Regions from separate parts of the Homo sapiens genome. Here all the other regions are reported to be linked to region 1. The links are microRNA targets in miRTarBase. Many come from high-throughput screens and were not tested one by one. Region 1 holds a microRNA gene; each other region holds the end of a gene's coding sequence.

Region 1 (4,152 bases):
CTAGGGACTTTTGGACTTCCTCCTGCCTACAATTGCGTGCAAAGGTCAAATAAACTGGCAAGGAACAAAATGTGAGACCACAAATGCAAAAATGGCACAACTGCACTACTGAAATAAATACGTTGAATCAATGAACTCTGATATTTCTGCATTAAAATGCAGCTTGCAACCACTAACTGCAAAGGAAAATATGAAGGGAAAATAAAGAGATGGTAACTAGGACCTAATATCTATATTACTAACTCAACTTCAGAAAGTTGGTATATTTTCAAAATTGCAGATATGTCTGCAACCTAAAGTATACTTCATAGCATTTAATTAATTAATTAATTTTGAAGTTTATTTTAGAGGCAGAATCTCACTCTGTTGTCCAGGCTGAAGTGCAGTGGTGCAACCGTAGCTTATTGCAGCCTGAAACTCCTGGCATCATGTCCCCCTTTTACCTCAGCCTCCTGAGTATCTGGAACTATAGGTATCCACTACCATGGTCGGCTAATTGTTTTTATTTTTTGTAGAAATAGGGTCTTCCTATGCTGTCCAGGATGGTCTCAAACTCCCGGCCTCAAGGGATTCTCTTGCCTTGGCCTGCCAAAGCACTGGGATTATAAGTGTGAGCTACCACGTCCAGCCCATAGCATTTTATTTTGAGGTTTAGGGACTAACGTGTGTATGATTTAGCAAGTGATGTTTAATGGCATTTTAAAATAATGGGTACCAAATAGAAACGTATGAATTGTTACTTGAATATAATTAAACTTTGTAAATTAATGGATTAGACTAGAAAGAAAAGATTCCAGAAATTTGAGGGGAAAAGGTAGGTTCTAGCACTGTCTCTTACATTTACATATTCTGTCTGTTTGGGCATGTTATTTTATCTTTTTGCATCGGTTTCCCTCTTAATGTATGGGTGAATATATAATAGTTGGAATTAAACCATAAATCAGTCAACTTCTAAGCTGTATACTATAAAAAACATTTGATGTAAATAATAAAACTCCTTGGAATCTGTCCCTCTTTGTGTCTCCATAACCTTCTATATTTGTTAGTTGAAATAATTATTTCTAAGTCTGAGGATTGTCCATTCAAGGTTGAACACTCAAGAAAACTGATTTATCTCTGTTCATCTCTACAAAGTCAGAATCGAAGAAGCATCATATCCTTTGGTTAAATTCAAGGTAGGGAAAAGAAAATCAAACCAATTCTACCAAAGAACAAATCAATTGATTTGATTATGAGTAGGTGGAGGTTACATTCTTTATCTTACTGAATTTGAGGTAAAATCGGTTAATCCTTTTATCCCCAATATTCATATTTAATCCAGAAAATGCTCTCTGGAACAAAAGTAATCATTACAAAATAAAGGCTTTATTCTACATTTTAGCAATAGTCTTTCCTTGGCTTATAAAAAATTAATTGCGGGGTATTCTCTTGATTGGGTACTTTAGATCCTGGTGACTGTTCTAACTGATGGGGCTGAAAGACAGTTCCCTTATCTCATAGCCAAATCACCTCCATGCAAATTGATCTGGGAGTGCCTTTAGAATAAACACAGCTGGATTCTCTGCAGCCATTTATGGGTCCAGTTTCCTAGGCTTAATTTTGATTTATAACTACTGAAATTAAATTAGCCATCTTCACTGCTTAAGGGTGGCTTTGATTTCACCAGTGCAGTAGGGAGACTATTTACCAACATATTTTATCAGTAACATTTCAACCTGGGTAAGGGGGTGGCGGTGGGGGGAAGGCATCTTATCTTTGGTATTTGTACTTGAGATTCCTTCAGAATATTTTAATTGTATTATTTACCGACAAATGTGAGGATTAGATTGTCAAATCAGACTCACATGAATTAAAGATCTTGCCCAGCATCAAGCTTTGCTAAATAATTTCAAGGATATAAGCTATCAAGTTCAGATAAGGTGCATCATATAACATAAAGTGGTGTACCTTATGTCATATGCTCCAGGTAGCCCTGCCTCATAGATCCTGGGTTCTATTAACTATGGGTAATCCCTTAGCCAGAGACATCTTGCTAGGGACAGAGATATAGTCTCTTATTCATAGTAAGTAACATTAGTCTATTTCCATTTGACAAAGAGATTAGACTAAGTCTTTGCTTTCCTCTAGGAGCACAAATTATTGTACAAAACGAGAAACAAAATTTGAGAGATTAAAATATGTGAAATATGTTAATAGTTCTAAGAAGGCTTTTATCTAGAACACGGTAATAAATGTCGACGTGCTATAGTAGGAAGAGTTGAAGATAAATGGTTAGATATCGCTTTTTATCCATATGACTTTGTGCATTAGTTTTTTGAGCCTCAGTTTTACTAATATTCCAAAGGATTAGGGAAATAAGCCTAACCAGAGTGACTCTGATTTTTTTTTTTTTTTTTTTGAGATGGAGCTTCGCTCTTTCACTCAGGCTGGAGTGCAGTGGCACAATCTTGGCTCACTGCAACCTCTGCCCTCCAGCTTCAAGCGATTCTTCTGTCTCAGCCTCCCAAGCAGCTGGGATTACAGGCGCCCACCACCATGCTTGGCTAATTTTTGTATTTTTAGCAGAGATGGGGTTTCACCATGTTGGGCAGGCTGGTCTTGAACTCCTGACCTCAGGTGATCCATCCGCCTCAGCCTCCGAAAGTGCTAGGATTACAGGCAAGAGCCACCACACCCAGTCGACTATGGAAATTTTAAAAGACAGTACATATACGTGTGTGTGTGTGTGTGTGTGTGTGTGTGTGTGTGTGTATGTATACACATATGCTATATACACACACACACACACGTATATCACAGAACTGAAGACCATAAAATGTTCTATACATATGAAAAAATGAGAATTTGAAATGTACATAATTCTTCACACAGATAGCTGACAGTGTTATAAATCTCCTTTCTTATAAATAAGAAAAACAGTCTCAGAAGTAAGTAATATTCTGATGGAGAGTTAGAAAAGAAAACCTGTCTTACAACTCTTTAAACATGCTTCTCCTCTAAGCTAAATCATAGTTTGCTAAAGAAGGTCGTGATAAGGTAGAAGAAAGACAAGAAAAGCCAAGGCAATGGGGTGAAGCAGGCGGAGAAAACTGTTTATGCCTCTTCTTCCAATGTCTATTTATTTTCTTTGTGGTTCTGAGCAACTATTTCTTCTTTTATCTTGCAACTGTCAAAGCAGCTCTCTGTAGAGAAACCAGCAAGCACACCCATTAAAACCAAAGCATGAATTTTCGGGTGAGGATCAGTGAGGCTCTCTTAAGAATACCTGAATTTTCACAGAGATAAACATATTTATTTGATTTAAATGGTAGAAAGTGTTAATTACTAAGTTTCATATACTACCAGGAGTCATAGAGAAGTCATTTTGGAGACCAAGAGTATATTCCTAGACCATGTAATCACATCATTTGAGTAGCTGCTTACTGAGTTTATTCACAATGAAAGCCTGATACATAAATTCTTTAAACAGAAACCAGTGGCATTGTTAATTTCCACTTTTGTTTCCAAATTGTTGCTTTTGTCTCATTGAGAGCATATTACTTACTTCAAGCACCTTAACAAACAAAGCTGGGTCATACACAAACGTCCTACTGTACCAGCAATAAGACAATATGAATACCCTGCAACCTCTCAACAACCAGAAGACAAAGATGTATTTGGAAGGGGCAGATGGGAAGTGAAAAAGAGAAATAAAATATACTTTACAGGGAATATTTTGCACACGTAATTCTGAGTGTTATATTTTTAGCTTGTATAAATAAACTTCATTAGTCTTCATTTTGAATATACAGGAAAAGTTTTTTTAGAAAAGACTCATTGTCACAAGCTGATAAGGTAAGTTAGGACAGTATATGATTAATATGCTACAATGATGTCTAAGAGAGAGGATGCTCATTAAATTTGTGTGTGACAAAAGTTGGAAAGAGTGTTAAGACCTTGAAATACTGGAGCATCTTTCAAAGTGAAACTTGACAAGTTAGAGAAATGGTCAGATAGAGAAATGGATTTTAATCAGACTGAAAGGAAAATTAATGTATTGGTTTTGTCAGTTGTACCTTCATCTTGAACGTAATGACTGCCTGTTACTTCCTCTGTGGTTTCATCCGAACCTAACGCGACACTCCCCTGAAAGGTCTCCTCTCTCCCTTCCTT
Region 2 (4,000 bases), not on the chromosome of region 1:
GACAAGAATATTTCACAATCAGCTGCCTGAGCATTGCCAAGTACAGGGTTAAATAGTAAAAAATAAATTAAAATATTAAAATTGTGAATATATATTTTCAAAAGAAAAAGCTCCACCTATTTCAAGTATGCTTTTATAATTTGATTTTGTCATGATCCTTTATGCTCCGCTATTGGTTAAATCTCAACTCTTTTTCTTATTCTTGCCATTAGCCTTCATTGATCTTGCTCTGTTTCCATAAAAAGGCCACAGTAGATAGTTAAAATGGGAGGGCAGATGGAAAGGTATACAACAAGGAATGAAATGGGCTTGTACAGTTTGTCTTCTTTGAACCCTAAATACCTTTAACTGAATTCATTCTTGACTATTGAAATCCCTGAGATGAACAAAAGCAATCTCAATCGACACTGAAGCCCTTTTTTTCATGCTGAACATTTTTGGAAGTGGGCAATGTATTTAGAGAACACAAAGGATATGGTGACAAAGTAATGTGAAAAAGCTAAAAAGGCACTACTCAATGCATCTATGAGATAAACATCAATGCACAGAACAATGAATGGCTGAGATATGTGTGCTGTGGCCTTAACATTGTTTAAATGTATTTACTGAAAATATACTAAAAATGGTCCGGCTGCGGTGGCTCACACCTGTAATCCCAGCACTTTGGGAGGCTGAGGTGGGTGGATAACCTGAGGTCAGGAAGTTCAAGACCAGCCTGGCCAACATGGTGAAACTTTGTCTCTACTAAAAACACAAAATTAGCCGAGTGTGGTGGTGGGCGCCTGTAACCCCAGCTACTTGGGAGGCTGAGGCACGAGAATCACTTGAACCCAGGAGGTGGAGGTTGCAGTGAGCTGAGATGGCATCACTGCATTCCAGCCTGTGTGACAGAGTGAGACTCCATCTCAAAAAAAAAAAAAAAAGAAAAAAGAAAAAGGAAGAAAATATGCTAAAAATGGCAAGGTACCTTGCTGCTGCTTTTTTAAGATATACTTTAAATGAGTGCCCAGATGGATTTTACCTTTAAGATATTTGCTTGTGACTTCTAGATTTCTGTTGGATTTAAACTAAAGGCTACTAGAATAGCTTATCATTTGCAAGTAGTCCAAATTTAGATTTTATAAATCACTTTCAATTTATTAAGTAAACCAGACTTTTCAACTTTACATTCAAAACATGTATCTATTCTCTTACAATTTCTGATAGATAAGAGGTTTAATTATAAAAGTACATTAATGTTCCATTCATTTTTAGCTATCAGTCTCCTATACGCATTAGATTTTACTTACTTAGAGACACATACATTCTCAAAAGATGTAATATTCTATATCCCAAGGTTTTACTATATTAAAAAAATATGACATCTAATTAAAAATATTGAGAACTGTACTACTGTGAATATCCTTTTCCATGGTAACACACACACACACACACGTACTTCATGCTTTTTATTCATTTCTCAGACTGTTTTCCCTAAGAAACAAAACATATATATTCCCCATGCCATTTCTTCTTTCCTCAAATTGCCTGCCCAAGAAATAAGAAATCAAAGTACAAGTGAGAATGCAGAGCTTCTGCCCAGTTTCTAAAGAAACAATCTACTATCATAAGTTACCAGAAAACTGGCCTATTGGTCAATTCTGTTATACATTAAAAATTTTTTAATTACTTTATTAATAATTTCATGTGTTTCTTGAAGAACATATGTGATATTGTGACTAAATTTAACTACAGAAAATATCGGTCAATTAAATTCATTTTAAATGCAAAATATTGACACAATTTCACTGTTAAACCTCTTGAAATTAATCATCTCTGTTTTGAAAACAATACTCTATTAATAATGTTATTTCTGCACTAAGAAATTTAACAGTAATATATAAAGCATTTCCATATTTCTATTTGAATAACAAGGGGAATATCAAAGAACTGGAAGTCACATTTCAGCTATATCAATCTAATATTTATTCTAAAGGGCAAAATGCTTCCACAAAATTATTATGTAATGCAAAAGGTGTGAAAAACATTTCAAATGAAAATAAAGTATGAGTTTGAAAATTAAAAAATATTTAGAGACAACTTTCACATTAATAGCAAAATAATATATTCATGTTAATAATATATTATTTTCATGAAAGAAAAATGGTTTGCTGTGTAGAAACACAAGTGTAATCTTTGGTACCAAAGATTTTTTTTTCCCGGCCTATTTTACCATCTCTGATGACATGGAACATCTTTCCTTTAGAATGGCCTAATATTACATAGTGGTTCACTTTAGCTGGTACCTTCTACACCACTGGAAAATAACATGGAGGTTTAGAGCCGTGCAAAATAAAACTTTTTTAAAAATGTCGGCCAGGCACGGTGGCTCACGCCTGTAATCCCAGCACTTTGGGAGGCCAAGGCGGGTGGATCACGAGGTCAGGAGATTGAGACCATCCTGGCTAACACGGTGAAAATCCGTCTCCACTAAAAATACAAAAAATTAGCCAGGCGTGGTGGCAGGCGCCTGCAGTCCCAGCTACTCCGGAGGCTGAGGCAGGAGAATGGAGTGAACTTGGGAGGCGGAGCTTGCAGTGAGCTGAGATCGCGCCACTGTACTCCAGCCTGGGCAACAGAGCGAGACAAAAAAAAAAAAAAAAGTCTTTGTGTGATAGCTTTTAAAAAGTATAAGAACTTTAAAAATAATTACTTAAAGTTTATTTCCTCACTCATATGCATCTCAGAAAGGATTTCTAAGCATCCCAATATCCAAACCAAAAGAGATTCCAGAAGACAAAAAAAAAACATAAATTAAAACATAAAATTCATGATCAGACTCAGAGTCCTGACTGAAGCATTTACTTGAGTTGTTTAATCTTACGGATTTCATTGCTCAAACTGCTTCCATCTTGGCTTCTGCTGACAAGGATGGTTTAATTTCCCAAGGTCTGAGTTGCGTTCCTGGGGTTCCTCTTCTAATATGCTTGGTGTTGCTGTGGGCAGCCTGACAGTGATGAACATATTTGCTTTGTTAACTAATGATGAGTGCACTGTTGGATCTTGTAAACACTACTGATTATACATTCAAACTGTATTCTTAGTGGAAGTGGCACTTACTAGGACCCTTAAAGTCAAAATATTTAATTTTTAGAGCACTTTGCAGGTATTTCATCAGCTGGTAGTCGATTTCTCATGAACGTCCTTTATTCACCTTTCAGTTCATTGGTGGATGCTGAAACCCAGCCGTGTTTTGGATCCTATTTTCAAATCTTCGGAAGCATCTTCAGAAAAGAAGTGCATATTGTTTGTTTCAAAATGTGCTTTATTGCTTTACACACTTTCCTGTTGTCAGTTTTAGAGCTCCTCTATTATGTAGCACATTTAATGTTTTGAATTCTAATGGCATTCTGTGAGGGCTTGCATTGGAAAAGTACCTATATTTTAAGTCATCATAATAATGATATTTGACCGCTTTTCCATTTAAATCCTTAGGGAAGGGCCAGAATCCATACAGGTGAATTTCATCACAGAATCTTGTGGCAAGTGTATACATGAGAAGACCTGTGCTGGGTCTTTTGATAGGAACTTTGTTGGTCAGCCAGTAACTGGAAAAACAAAAAACAAAATCAAGAAGAGAAGAATTTAGACACACATAGAGCATATCCTATAGCAAGTATATAATGCAGAAAACTTAAAAGGTATCTTTATGAATAATATTTTAAAGAATTACTGAAGAAATATTTTTAAGCATTTAGAAAATTTGATGCTTTTATTTTATTTCTTCTTTATCCTTTATTTTCTTTCTTATTCTTGAGGTCATATAAATACCCAAGGGACCTGGAATGTAGGTGAATATTACTCTAGAATCTCACCTTTGAAATGAATAATAGCAAACATTTATATAACATGCAGAGTAAAATTTTCTCAAAAAGGATTAAATACAACTGCAGAAGTCATGGTAATTGGGTAGAGATTAAGTAATCCTCCCAGAAAAAAAAGTTTGAAACTATGCCTATAG
Region 3 (4,000 bases), not on the chromosome of region 1:
ATGACAGTTTCAAATTTCCTGCACATTTGAAGACAAGATAAGAGGCCAGTATACAAACTTCCGGTGTGCTGGGCACTGGGACTGTATGTGCTGGACTGAAAATCTTACAACTGCTTTAAGCTTTAAGGGTGAGGGGAAGCAAGCCTTGCACTTCCTCCATCAATTTCACTGACCTCTCGTGTTAGGGGAGACTACAGAGGGTAGTAGCACATTCTCGTGCAGTCAGAAGGCCACTTGAGGGGTGGGGGACAATTTGTTCTTTTAGAATCTGGTACCTGGCTGACCTTGTTTAAGAACAAGAAAACCCTTCCAGAAATGGAAGCCTTTTGCTACATACCAAAGCAAAGTACGTACTATTTCCAAGAGGAAAAATACCCAGTTGCATCTGAAAATGGAAAACTTAAATGGAACGAATTAACATTTAAAAGGGGCTATGTAAACTTTGTGCTACTCAAATGAAGTTCAAGTATTACTTCTGAGCTGTTTAAAGATCACTGAACTCATACAATATTCTGATGATAAGAGTGCAATTCACATTTGTGTTTCTGAACAAATAAATCACAACTGGCTAGAACACAACCTGTGCAATCAGAATCTTCGTCTGAGTTAAAGACATGCTACATATTTCAACATGTTCAAAGTTAATTCATACCACATAATTAACAGCTTTGTATATACGACAAAGGTGAAAGGGTCTAGCATTTGTTTGAAGCACACCATTACAGTTTGTATAACACCCTTTACACTACAAAGTCTTTTAGTCAAAAGCTACTTAGAGACAAAAATGCACTTTGCATTACTTGAATACAAAAGGAGACAAAACTATCCTTTTCCCCCAAGCCATGTTGGGAAATATTGCTGACCTCGTCCTTTGAAGCCTGCAGGATGGTTATTTCTTCAGTTTAACGTTATTACACTGCTAAGAAAATCTGTATAACATCTGCATATATCAAGGATTTTAAAAAATCTGATATGATTTTAGAGTCCGCATGACCAGTCACGTGACCTGCTCAAGATTGATTAGCACCGTTAAATAAACACACATATATGTATGTATGTATGTGTAAGTATATGTACACACACACATCTATGTATGTAATAAATCTTTGCTAAAAAAACTTCTAACCATAAGCTCACCCAGGACGAGGAGCCTGTTGAACCGATGAGATGATGGATAAGATGGATTTCACGATAATATTGGTCTATTTTGTCTCTCTTCAGTTTGCTTGTTTTATTTACCTTTTTTTCCTTTTTTTTGTTTTTTGTTTTGTTTTTTTTTTGTTTGTTTTTTTTTGCAGCAGACAATATCATTCAGCTTGTGCTCAGTTTCCCTATAAGGGTAAGAAAAGTTTCCATCAGGTAGCCACTTGTTTTTATACTGAAAGACTAATCTGCTCCAAAATGCTCCCAAGTAGAAATGACAGGACTCAAAATCCCTTTCTAAAGCCCAACAGCTAACTTTTTCTGACTAATCTCTAGCTTCATTGAAACTGGCTACCAAGATTGCATTTCAGGCTAACAATTGGCTTCTTAGTTAAGGCATCACAACTGAAAATGGTTATTTCAACAATGGATGCTGTGGATGAAGGAATACCAACAAACTTCTAAGAACTCTCATCAAAAACTAAAGCAATTTGCTTTGCCCCAGTGGCAGGCAGAAGGAATTTAGCCCATTATCTCACAAACTAGGAAAGGATTTTTGAATTCTGAACTAGCAGTCTGTCACTTGTCACAGTAACTATATGTATAAGCTGTATCATTTTGATATTCAGTGACTTTTTTGTAGTTTTAGAATATATATTCTGCAGCATACTTTAATTCATCACTTGATATGTTGGCTTCCTATTTGAAAAAATTATATATATTTTTCCAAAGACACACAGACACACACACATAACCATAAAATGAAGGTCATCTTCCTCCAGAATAATCTGTCATTTTTCCTGGGGATATATGTATGGACCTCCTATCGACATCAGTAAGTTATCTTTGTATGCATCATGGGAAGACTATACTTGCAGATGAGCTGGGCTCTAACTATAGCATATCTGAATGCCAACTCCATTTTCACAGGTGTGACATAACATCTTATCAATGTAGTAAATGTGTTTCTATCAAAAGTATGTAGTGCAGAAAGAAATTCAAGCTATTTTATAGTATCTCTAAAACTCTAATATTGTCCCCATGACAAACATATCTGAAATCATGGCAAATATGAACTTTTGTTTTACTAAATTATCTTTACCATATCTTTAGATGGTAGCTAAAATGGATTCTAGCCAATCATGACTTATTGAAACCTAGAGCTAACAAATTTAAATTAATATAAAATAGACAAATGTCTCTTATTGGTTATTTGCTCAAAATAATTTTTTTTCAGCTTAAAAAAATACTTAAGAGTAAGGAATTTGTCTAATCTTCTGTTTCACATATAGAAACAATAAAGTTTTACAAGAATATTTTTCTAAATTGCCTTTTTTCTAACCCCTCTTAATTCCACTTAATTATATTCTTCTCAAAGGCACTAAATTCTGTATCTGCTCTCTTCCTAATATTTGCTGCTCATAAAATGTTTCCTGTAGCCTTTTTGAAAGGTAGTTTGTACCTTCTCCAAACAGTGTTTTAGTTTGCAAATTGGTTCTATAAAGTGGTGAGGCAGTCTCTTCTATGATAACCAGCACAATAGGGATAAATGATTTCTCTCTCTCTGTGACAAGCCCTATCACGGACCTTTGAATGCTCACTACTAGAACTAAAGTTCATGTATTTTCACCATGGGAAAAACATATACTTAAGGAGTGAAGACCCAACTACTAGGCTGTCATAGCAAAGTGAATTTCAGACAAAAATCAAGAGTAATATACAAATACCTGAATTTGATATGAATTAATCCCAAACTCAGGTATCAAAAAACAACTATCTTACTGAGGAAAACTAAAGACGAACCTAAGTAAAATCCCTAAAAACTGCACACTTTCTTCCATCCACAGTCAAAGGAAGGGAGGCAGGGAAGGAAGAAGGAAAACGGGAAGGAAGAAGGAAAACAGGAAGCAAAACGGGAAGAAAGGCAAGGAGGACAGAAAAACAGAAACCTGACTGAGACAGCAAAGCAAAATTCTACATAATATTATAAGGAAAAAAAAACCCAAAATTATATATGCTGCAAAAAAAAAATCAACGATCTAAAATAATAAAACAGGATCTTAACAAATGCCATTTTTCTACCCGTTACCATGATGATCTTAGTTGACGATGTCGAAGCTTCACCATGGCAACGGAAACTATCATCATAAAATGGTACAGTAAAAGAGATAGCTAGACCAAGAAGGTGTAGGGTCTCCTGGGAAGAGGTCTGCAGAGAGGCCCAGTGACTGGTTGTGCGGCTCAGTGTCAGGAATAATGGTTGTATGGCGGAAGGGGATGCCCAATGCCATTTTGGAAATGATGATGCTGGCGATGAGCAAGGTATTCAGCATAGCTCAGGGTCATCTTTTCACTACGATACCTGAAAGAAAGTCAGGGAAGAGAAAAGTTAACATTGAGAAGTAGGTGACATGCCATTGTCACTGCTAGGAAGGACCTTAAAGATAATTTTATAGATCAGGAAACGGGGTCCCAGAGAGAAGCAGTGACTGCCCAAGGTCACAGAGATAGTAAGTAGCAAAGCTAAGATCAGAACTTGGAAATCAAAAGTCTGAGTCCAGTGCTCTTTGCACTCTACTACTCCTTGTTTAAATTGTTCTTTTAAAAATTTTATTGTCCCCTCAGCCCCAGTTTTCTAACAGGAGTATGCATCTCATTCGATTCAGTTGATTATTTTTCTTCAGAAATCTTCCACCTCTCCCTCTTTTACTGTTCCTTTCTCTGTCCACACATCTACTTAGGTCTTACCATTAAGTAACAACAACAAAAACAACTTTTCTTAATTCTGGTATCCTGAACTCTCACTTTTCCCCATGTCTGGCTTTCTTTTCATTGCCACATTTCTCAAATAGTTGTG
Region 4 (4,000 bases), not on the chromosome of region 1:
AATGTGTAAGAATAACTGGGGCAGATGACAACATTATAGTAACAATAAGCCAATAAGCTCAGATGATGGCAAAACTACTTCTGGAATGACTTCAGGTAAACTGTTTATCATTTCTAAGTTTTAGTAACTTTGGCTAACTAAAATCCCTATCAAATTTCTTAGATCTCTTTCAGAATTTGCCACTTTCTCAAGCTTTTAATGTTAAAAAATTCTAAATTTAGGTTGATCTACTGGATCAAGCAAACATTTCCACTGATTTTAGTGTACATATTCTAGCTATCACTACTTTAATCATAAAACTATTTCAATTAATTATTAAATACACCAATAAAATTGGAGACTTGGGACTTGAGCAGGACTTCAGCTATTTAGTATTACACATGTATGTGTGTATATATATGTATGTGTATATATACATATGTGTGTATATATATGTATATATAAAACTAATCACTATATATAAAACATATATAAAACATATATAACATATATATAAAACTAATCACAAAGGAAAAACTTTTTGTGAGGGCAGGAAAAACCATAGGAAATGAGAGGAAAGGGAAGTGCTAACACACCAGAAGGAGGCAGGCTATTTCAGCATCTTTTAACTTAGTATTTTAGGTGATACAGAACACAGATATCCAAATGGCTTAATTCTATACTAAGTATAAAAACATGACTCTCCAGTATCATGAATCTTTTCAGGTGGCATTGTGGTGACGTTTCTTCCTTTTCATGTATGCCTTTATAGACGCCCTTTACAGAACCCTTAATAACACTAAACACAATGAATTCAGGAATTTAACTTTGTGCTCTAGCCACGATCTCAGAAATCCACATGACCTACAAAACTGGAGGCAAAGGAATTTGGGTTTTTGAAGATATAAATCCATTAATCGAATTTCTAGTTTAAAAAATGGAGCATTAGTTTTAAAAAGTAAACTAGACCTTAAATAAGAGGTTATCTAGATTTGTCACCCACCTACTCAACAAATATACATTGAATACAGTGTGCCAGGTGCTGGCACAATAATGATGATGATTGATAAGGTTCCTGAAATTAAATAATTTCAAACAAGTAATTATAGTTTTGAAGAAGTGCTATGTTGTTCTCAGTCTGAGTGACTGCACAATATAATAATGCTGGCTGAGGTATGACAAGGACAGGGAGTTACATAACACGTAATAAGAACCTGTAATGGAACATTAGGTCAAAGAAGACATCTGGGAAGACCTTCAAGTGTCTTGAATTTTCTAGAAACTAAAAGAAAATTAGAGTACAGTGAACAAGAGGGAGAACAGGTTGAAATGAAGCTGGAGAGGTAGGCAGGAACAGACTGAAGAGCTTTTAAAACTTTAAGTGGGGACTTCAGTACGAAGGTTCACCAGATCACACAGAGCTATGAAGGTCATATTAGAATTTTGGATTTAGGAGTTAGAAGAGATTTAGTGGCTGGGTGCAGTGGCTCACACCTATAATCCCAGCACTTTGGGAGGCCAAGGTGGGCAGATCACCTGAGGTGGGCGGATCACCTGAGGTCAGGAGTTCGAGACCAGCCTGACCAATATGGTGAAACCCCATCTCTACTAAAAATACAAAAATTATCTGGGCTATGGTGGTGCACACCTGTAATCCCAGCTACTCAGGAGGCTGAGGTGGGAGAATTGCTTGAATCCAGGAGGCAGAGGTTGCAGTGAGCTGAGATAGCACCATGGCACTCCAGCCTGGACAACAGAGAAGACCCCGTCTCAAAAAAAAGAGAGAGATTTAGTGGTTAGTTTAGGTCCTTCACTGGGATTAAAGTTGGGCCATAGGTAATTCAGTAAATTAGTTTCTTAAAATGGCTTAAGAGAATTCTTCTGAGACAAAAGGCAAACAGTTTTGGGTCATTTTGTTTTAAAAGCTGAGTAGGTAAATACAGCCATTTGTTGAGCACCATCAATGCGCAATGCAATGCACTTGAAATATCACCCACTTCCCCAGGGCTTTCTTAACTGACAGAAAAACGGGGAGAGTGACTTGAGTAGAGCATAAACATGACTAGGAAAAGTACTTAGAGCATAAATAGCGGTTTCTGAGAGCCTTTAGTGACTTTCTAGGAATATTTTCACTACCCTCTCCACTTTGATAACAAATACACTTTGATGTAGTCTCAAAGGAAATCTTTAGGCCTATGCTTCCATATCATTTCCAACCCCCAACAATAACTTCATGTGATGAAGTTTAACAACATTATAAATGGAAGGATGAGTATACAGTTCAGTAGCTCAAGATAATGGATATAAAGATCCAATAAATATAAAAGCTACCTTTTATTTAAAACGAGGCATATTCTTGGGTGCGGTGGCTCATGCCTGTAATACCAGCACTTTGGGAGGCCAAGGTAGGTGGATCTCTTGAGACCAGGAGTTCAAGACCAGCCTAGCAACATGGTGAAACCATCTCTACAAAAAATTAAAAAATTAGGCATGGTGGCCCATGCCCGTAGTCCCAGCTATTAGGTTAGTGAGAAAGTAATTGTGGTTTTTTGCCGTTAGTGGCTTTTTTTTTTTTTTTTGCCATTAGTGGCATTAGTGGCAAAAAAACCACAATTACTTACACACCAACCTAATACTTGGGGGGCTGAGGTGGGAGGATGGCTTGAGCTCAGGAGGTGGAGGTTGCAGTGAGCTGAGACTGCACCACTACACTCGAGCCTGGGCAACAGGTGAGTCAAAAAAAAAAAAAAAAAAGGCATTTTCTGAAACACAAGATTTAAGTGAAAGTAGTATTTGTAAGCTGGAAAGCCATGTACAAGTGCTAGCTCTAATTCAAATTTCCCACCCTTAATTCTTTCTTGTAAAGGACTGTCTTCAATTACATCCTGTATTCTTTCAATGGAACAAGAACACACGTTAAAAATGGTATTCAAACAAAGAAATACAGCAACTCAGTTTATTACATGCAGATTCTTCTGCATTGTTGCTAACAGTTCACTGGTCCAAAATTACTAAAATACTTAAAAAACTATACATTATGTAAACAAAACATAAATAAGACAGCATAGTTCTTTGTACATATATTTAGTACAGGTTGTTAGGGATTCTGGAATATGTACAATTTTACATCATGGACTGCATTTTTCACAATGCATAAATATATATATGTATTTTTTTTTTTACAGAAACAAAAATAAGATTTCACTAATGACACTGAATACCATATCATAGATATGCTGCAACAGTCCAAATTCAAGAAGAAACATGTCAATGTAAATGTGCAAAAGGCTAGCTTACTCTAAACTATTCAAACTTTGTTCACTTTATGTTCTACAGACAGGTAAATCCTGACTTTAAACACAGAACCTTGAAACCCTCCTCAGAACAGTAAGTGAAATGGAACAGATCTTTCCCTCCCCAAGAAAACAAAGCCTTGTTGCAAGCTAATGAAAAGATACATTAAAACACACACACACACACACACACACACACACACACACACACAATGTATAGTATGCTTTCAACAGTATAATAAACATTGAAAATTTTTATGGGAGTCAAAACAATGCCCCATTATTTAAAAACTGGCTCTTTTAGTCTAAATTCAAGATGCAGCTCTGTCAGGCTTCTCTAAGCCCGACGACTGAAAAGCAGGGAAGACAGACGCAGGACTTCGACTGGCAGATACAACAATCTGAGAGAGAGATGGAGAGAGTGAAGAAACCTTAGATGCTGGAGTATTTATGGTATTCAAAATGGCTCCTTCTGGGCTAACCAACAATTTTTTGACAGGTGGGTCCAAATGAAACACTGAAGTGCTACTTGGCAGTGGAGGATTACTGGGGCAAATGGCAGAAACCAAAGATGTCTTAGCCAAAAGAGTAGCTGGAGACTTAATTACTGAAGTCAGTGATACTGTTGGTACAGGAGGTGGAACAGGAACCTTAGCAGTTGTGTTTATGAGTTGTGGTGATGTATGTACTGTGGGTATAGAACTTGCATTCCCAAAAGAGTTTATAAA
Region 5 (4,000 bases), not on the chromosome of region 1:
GTGTTTGTGGGTGCATTTATGGCAGGGGCTGGTTGCTTCTTTTCTTGTTCTCTTTCTTGGCTCTCTGGGATGCTGAGTGGCCCCCGGCTCTTGTATTCCCCACTGATTAGTCATGGCCAGGCAGCTGCTCCAGCCAGGGTGGAGTGCTGTGCCTTTACCCACAGCACTGCCTGTTTGTTTTGCTTTATAGAAACTCCAAGAGGAGGAGGAGGAGAGCAACACCAGCAAAGTGCCCACTGCTGTGTCAGAGGATCATCTCTGAGAGGAAGGTGGTGACAACTCAGGGAACACGAACACCCCACCTTTTCCTTCAGCACAGCTCTCACCGCCAGCACAAAGGGCTTCGCTAGAGATGTTTTTGGAGGGAATCAGTGGGACTATTTGTGGCATGGATGGCCTATTCCTCCTAGAACCCACGTAAGAGCTTGGATGATTTAGTTGGAGAAAATTGCACCTATCACCAAATGCAAATTTGATTCCCACCTCCACCCCCTTTTAGGTTATGGGAGTTGGTGTTGGGACAGGGTGGCAGAGAATATTGGAGTCAATCCTAGCTTGGTCTCTTGCCTTCCCTCTTTTCCTCCATCCATCGTGGACAATGCCTGCAAAATTTTCACAGGAAGAAAGCCTATTCAGGATATTAACTTGAAATTTCCAGTGTCCTAAGAGCCTCTCATGAAGCCCAGTTCTAATAAGTGGCAAGCTGCTCTGCCGGGGTCATCTCCTGGGTCATCGGACTGATTGCTCAAGTTCTGCAGGAGAGGAAGCACCATTAGAACAACTCCATCAGAACAGCTCCACCGGGACTTGTGGGCCTAAATTTTCCTGGCCTAACGGGTCTGTCTCCAAACCCTCTTTCCTAAGAGCTGAGCAAACCAACCATAATAAACTTGACAAAAGACTTTGTTGTGGCCATGACAGAGATACCGACTCAGGAGGGCTACCTACCTAGGTGTGATCATGCTGGGGGCTACCTTCTGAGTATATTTGTGAAAGCACATATTTGGGAACTCTGGTAGCTTGAGTTGGGAATGGGAAGGTTCTTTTTTACAGAAGTACTTCCCCAGGGACTTCTGTGTGTCACAGTCACCTCTGATGCCTTTATCTTGATGTTGCATTGGGAATCTCAGCCATCAGCCCAAGTGCTTGTTTTATTCCAAGGCAGGGTAATCCCCGTCAACTTACTCTAACCTTTGCTGAAAACTAATCTTGATTCATTCTACTCTGAAAATCCAAAGGTGCTTCTGAGAGATAAGAGGGAAGGGGTAGAAGGAAAGGTGCCCCTTGAAATGGGAATTGAGCCTGTTAGAATTAAAAGCTTATCTCACCTCTGCTGGGGACAGTATTTGCACCACCAACCCCTCTCCTCACCTGCTTTGAGCGATAATCTTTATCAGATATTCTAAACTTAAAGGGATTCCCTTTAAACCAACTCAAGCTGATCTTTCCTATCTAGCCTGCTGTTTGGCTGTACTCATGGGCTTTGGTAATATCTCCTAAAAATGAGGTTTTGGTAATTTTTCCTATGCATTGGGCAACTGTGATCGTGACCACTGTGCTGTCTTGCTCCAGCCACTGCCCTGGCCTCAGCATATCAGGGCAGCCTGTGCTGGCTGCAATACTGTGGTGCTTGGGCCACTGCCTGAGAGGAGCCAGGTTTGTGTGTGTCTGCATGTGTGTGTGTGTGTGTTTGTACAGATTCAAGCAATGGATGCAAGGAACATGCTGTATGTAATAGAAGAAAGAAGTCCACGTTTTCGGCAGAAGTAGTGAGTCAGTGTGGAAGAGAGGTGAGGGTGTGCTTTACTTTTTGATAAAGAGAAAGATGTTTACTCATAAACCCTTCAAAAGGTATTAACAAAATGTTTACCAAACCTATTGCTTTATTTTAAAAACATAATTTGTGTTTTCTATTTGTAAGATCTGACATTTCGAGGCAATAAAAACTTCTCAGAAAGTGGTCTGCCTTATCATTCAGTGGGGCAGAGATGGCTCTTAGAAGTCCCTGCAAGACTGTCACACATTCCTGAGGCTCCTGTCTTAGGTGTGGGGAAGGGCTGGGCTGGGGCGGGGGAGTGTGAGGCTAGAGAAGCAGCAACTGTGGTCTTCCACAGGAGCATCTCACTGTTGCCAGACCTTACCATCTGGGAGGGATATTTTTTAAAGACAAGGCTGTAAAGGTTACTGTTTGCCTACATGGAGGGACTGCAACTCAACATCCAGCACGACCCTGACCTCTTTCCATGCTGTGTACGCGCTGGAATGTGAGTGACTGCTGATGAGAGAGTCCACTGTTGTTTCTGGCTCTGCCTCAAAGGGTGGTTGAAATGTTTGTTCTCTGATTACCTCAGCCATGCATCAGCTTGCTGTGGCTGGGGCCCATGGCTCAGTCCCAGCAGCTGCAGTCTTGCGTTACCATTTTTCTTCCTAACTGGCCAACGTCCTGTTACTCATCCCTCCCCAGTTGTGATCACCTTGTGCGTGTTACTTGAATATGCTGCTACTATCATCTGTGTTCTGTACATTCTTTCCATAGAGAGTTGTACTGTGCCTGTGGTATTCTAGCATCATATTTATAGCAACTCGTAGCTGGGGAGGAACAATATTATGATTCTATTTTAAATGATCTAGGAAGGGACCCAAGCCTGGGCTGTTAAGAAATCTAATATCCATAGTGTCTGCTAAATACTCTAACTGTACATCTCTTTAGATCCTTTGGGTCCCTGCCTTTACTAATCTGGAATCACTTTTTTTTTTTTTTTTTTTTTTGAGATGGTGTCTTTTTCTGTCGCCAGGCTGGAGTGCAATGGCGCAATCTCGGCTCACTGCAACCTCCGCCTTCCTGGTTCAAGCAATTCTCCTGTCTCAGCCTCCCAAGTAGCTGGGACTACAGGCACACGCCACCATGCCCAGCTAATTTTTGTACTTTTAGTAGAGACGGGGTTTCACCATGTTGGCCAGGATGGTCTCGATCTTTTGACCTCATGATCTGCCCGTGTCAGCCTCCCAAAAGTGCTGGGATTACAGGCGTGAGCCACCACACCCGGCCAGGGCATCACATTTTCATGACACATGCTCAGAGGACCTAAATCATCCAATGTTTTCATTCACTCCTTTCATAAGGTCTTCATGTGGATCTGTGTTCAAACATTAACTGTCATCACTGCTTTTTTACTGCCTCCTAACAATATAGCTGACAAGTAAAGAAAAGATAGTTCTTACCATTGAGATATTTTTCTAGATACAGTGTTCTGGGCATATGAGGCCTGGAATTTCTGCAACCAACTTTGGTACCATAAAAGAAGTCAGCCTGAGGATGCCAGCACACATAGGTAGTGCTGAAAGAATCGTAAAGAAATGGAGCTGGAGTCTTGATCAAACCCTTCCTGAAGCTAATCTTGTAATTTTTCAGTTATATGAGCCAGCTATCTTTATTGTTTAAGCTAGTTTAAGGTAGGTTTTGTCCTTTCACCTAAAGAGACTTAACTGATAAGAGAATTCCCAATGTATTTAAGTGTAAACATCAAGCTTCTTATCACACCCTTATAAGCCCCTTGCCTCCTTTTCTGACCTTTTCTTTCACTTCCTAACTCTTCACCATGCTGTGATTACATAGTTCTTATTCCTTGAATAAGACTATTCTACCTTCCAGTTGCTGCTCCCTCCTTTCTAACGGCCTGCTCCATATCTTAAGACATTTAACTCCTGGGCATTCAAGTCTCAGCTCAAATCCCACCTCTTAGCCTGGACAACATAGTAAGACCCCATCTCTTCCCACCCCCAAAAATGTTAGCTGGATGTGGTGGTACACACTTGTAGTCCCAGCTACTTGGGAAGCTGATGCAGGAGGATCACTTGAGCCCAGGAAGTTGAGGCTGCAGTGAGGTGTGATTGTGCCACTGCACTCCAGCCTGGGTGACAGAGTGAAACCCTGTCTCTAAAAAACAAAAAAATCCCATCTCCTCAGGGAGGACTTTCTGATGATCTAATTTAAGTTACG

Evidence for each region. The annotated mature microRNA hsa-miR-8485 reads CACACACACACACACACGUAU and lies in region 1 at 2,710-2,730, opposite strand. An mRNA with a match to its seed (bases 2 to 7 or 8) in the 3' UTR can be bound and repressed. Matches are read on the target gene's strand: a 7mer-m8 pairs with bases 2 to 8, a 7mer-A1 pairs with bases 2 to 7 and ends in A, and an 8mer does both.
Region 2: the mRNA of ST8SIA4 is a reported target of hsa-miR-8485. Seed matches in the 3' UTR shown: 7mer-m8 at 1,427-1,433, 7mer-m8 at 1,425-1,431, 7mer-m8 at 1,423-1,429, 7mer-m8 at 1,421-1,427, 7mer-m8 at 1,419-1,425 and 7mer-m8 at 1,417-1,423.
Region 3: miRTarBase lists AMMECR1 as a target of hsa-miR-8485. Seed matches in the 3' UTR shown: 7mer-m8 at 1,888-1,894, 7mer-m8 at 1,886-1,892, 7mer-m8 at 1,884-1,890, 7mer-m8 at 1,876-1,882, 7mer-m8 at 1,080-1,086, 7mer-m8 at 1,078-1,084 and 2 more.
Region 4: the mRNA of BRD10 is a reported target of hsa-miR-8485. Seed matches in the 3' UTR shown: 7mer-m8 at 3,478-3,484, 7mer-m8 at 3,476-3,482, 7mer-m8 at 3,474-3,480, 7mer-m8 at 3,472-3,478, 7mer-m8 at 3,470-3,476, 7mer-m8 at 3,468-3,474 and 12 more.
Region 5: miRTarBase lists FLVCR2 as a target of hsa-miR-8485. Seed matches in the 3' UTR shown: 7mer-m8 at 1,075-1,081, 7mer-m8 at 1,660-1,666, 7mer-m8 at 1,662-1,668, 7mer-m8 at 1,674-1,680, 7mer-m8 at 1,676-1,682, 7mer-m8 at 1,678-1,684 and 3 more.

Annotation. Positions count from the first base shown.
Region 1 is chr2:50,693,463-50,697,614 of GRCh38, forward strand. It overlaps MIR8485 (microRNA 8485), which reads right to left and starts at 2,800; the gene lies at 2,710-2,800. The region is part of intron 5 of NRXN1 (neurexin 1); the gene reads right to left.
Region 2 is chr5:100,808,543-100,812,542 of GRCh38, forward strand. It overlaps ST8SIA4 (ST8 alpha-N-acetyl-neuraminide alpha-2,8-sialyltransferase 4), which reads right to left. Exons shown (of 5, transcript NM_005668.6): 5 at 1-3,587. The coding sequence ends at 3,305. Among named protein-coding and RNA genes, the nearest start is that of MIR548P, 6.0 kb to the right of the region's middle.
Region 3 is chrX:110,195,130-110,199,129 of GRCh38, forward strand. AMMECR1 (AMMECR nuclear protein 1) reads right to left here. Exons shown (of 6, transcript NM_015365.3): 6 at 1-3,505. The coding sequence ends at 3,391. Among named protein-coding and RNA genes, the nearest start is that of SNORD96B, 28 kb to the right of the region's middle.
Region 4 is chr9:5,916,101-5,920,100 of GRCh38, forward strand. BRD10 (bromodomain containing 10) reads right to left here. Exons shown (of 8, transcript NM_001017969.3): 8 at 2,922-4,000. The coding sequence ends at 3,584. Among named protein-coding and RNA genes, the nearest start is that of MLANA, 27 kb to the left of the region's middle.
Region 5 is chr14:75,646,211-75,650,210 of GRCh38, forward strand. It overlaps FLVCR2 (FLVCR choline and putative heme transporter 2), which reads left to right. Exons shown (of 10, transcript NM_017791.3): 10 at 191-1,957. The coding sequence ends at 262. It overlaps ERG28 (ergosterol biosynthesis 28 homolog), which reads right to left. Exons shown (of 5, transcript NM_007176.4): 5 at 3,581-4,000. Among named protein-coding and RNA genes, the nearest start is that of ERG28, 13 kb to the right of the region's middle. RefSeq lists an enhancer at 2,136-2,430.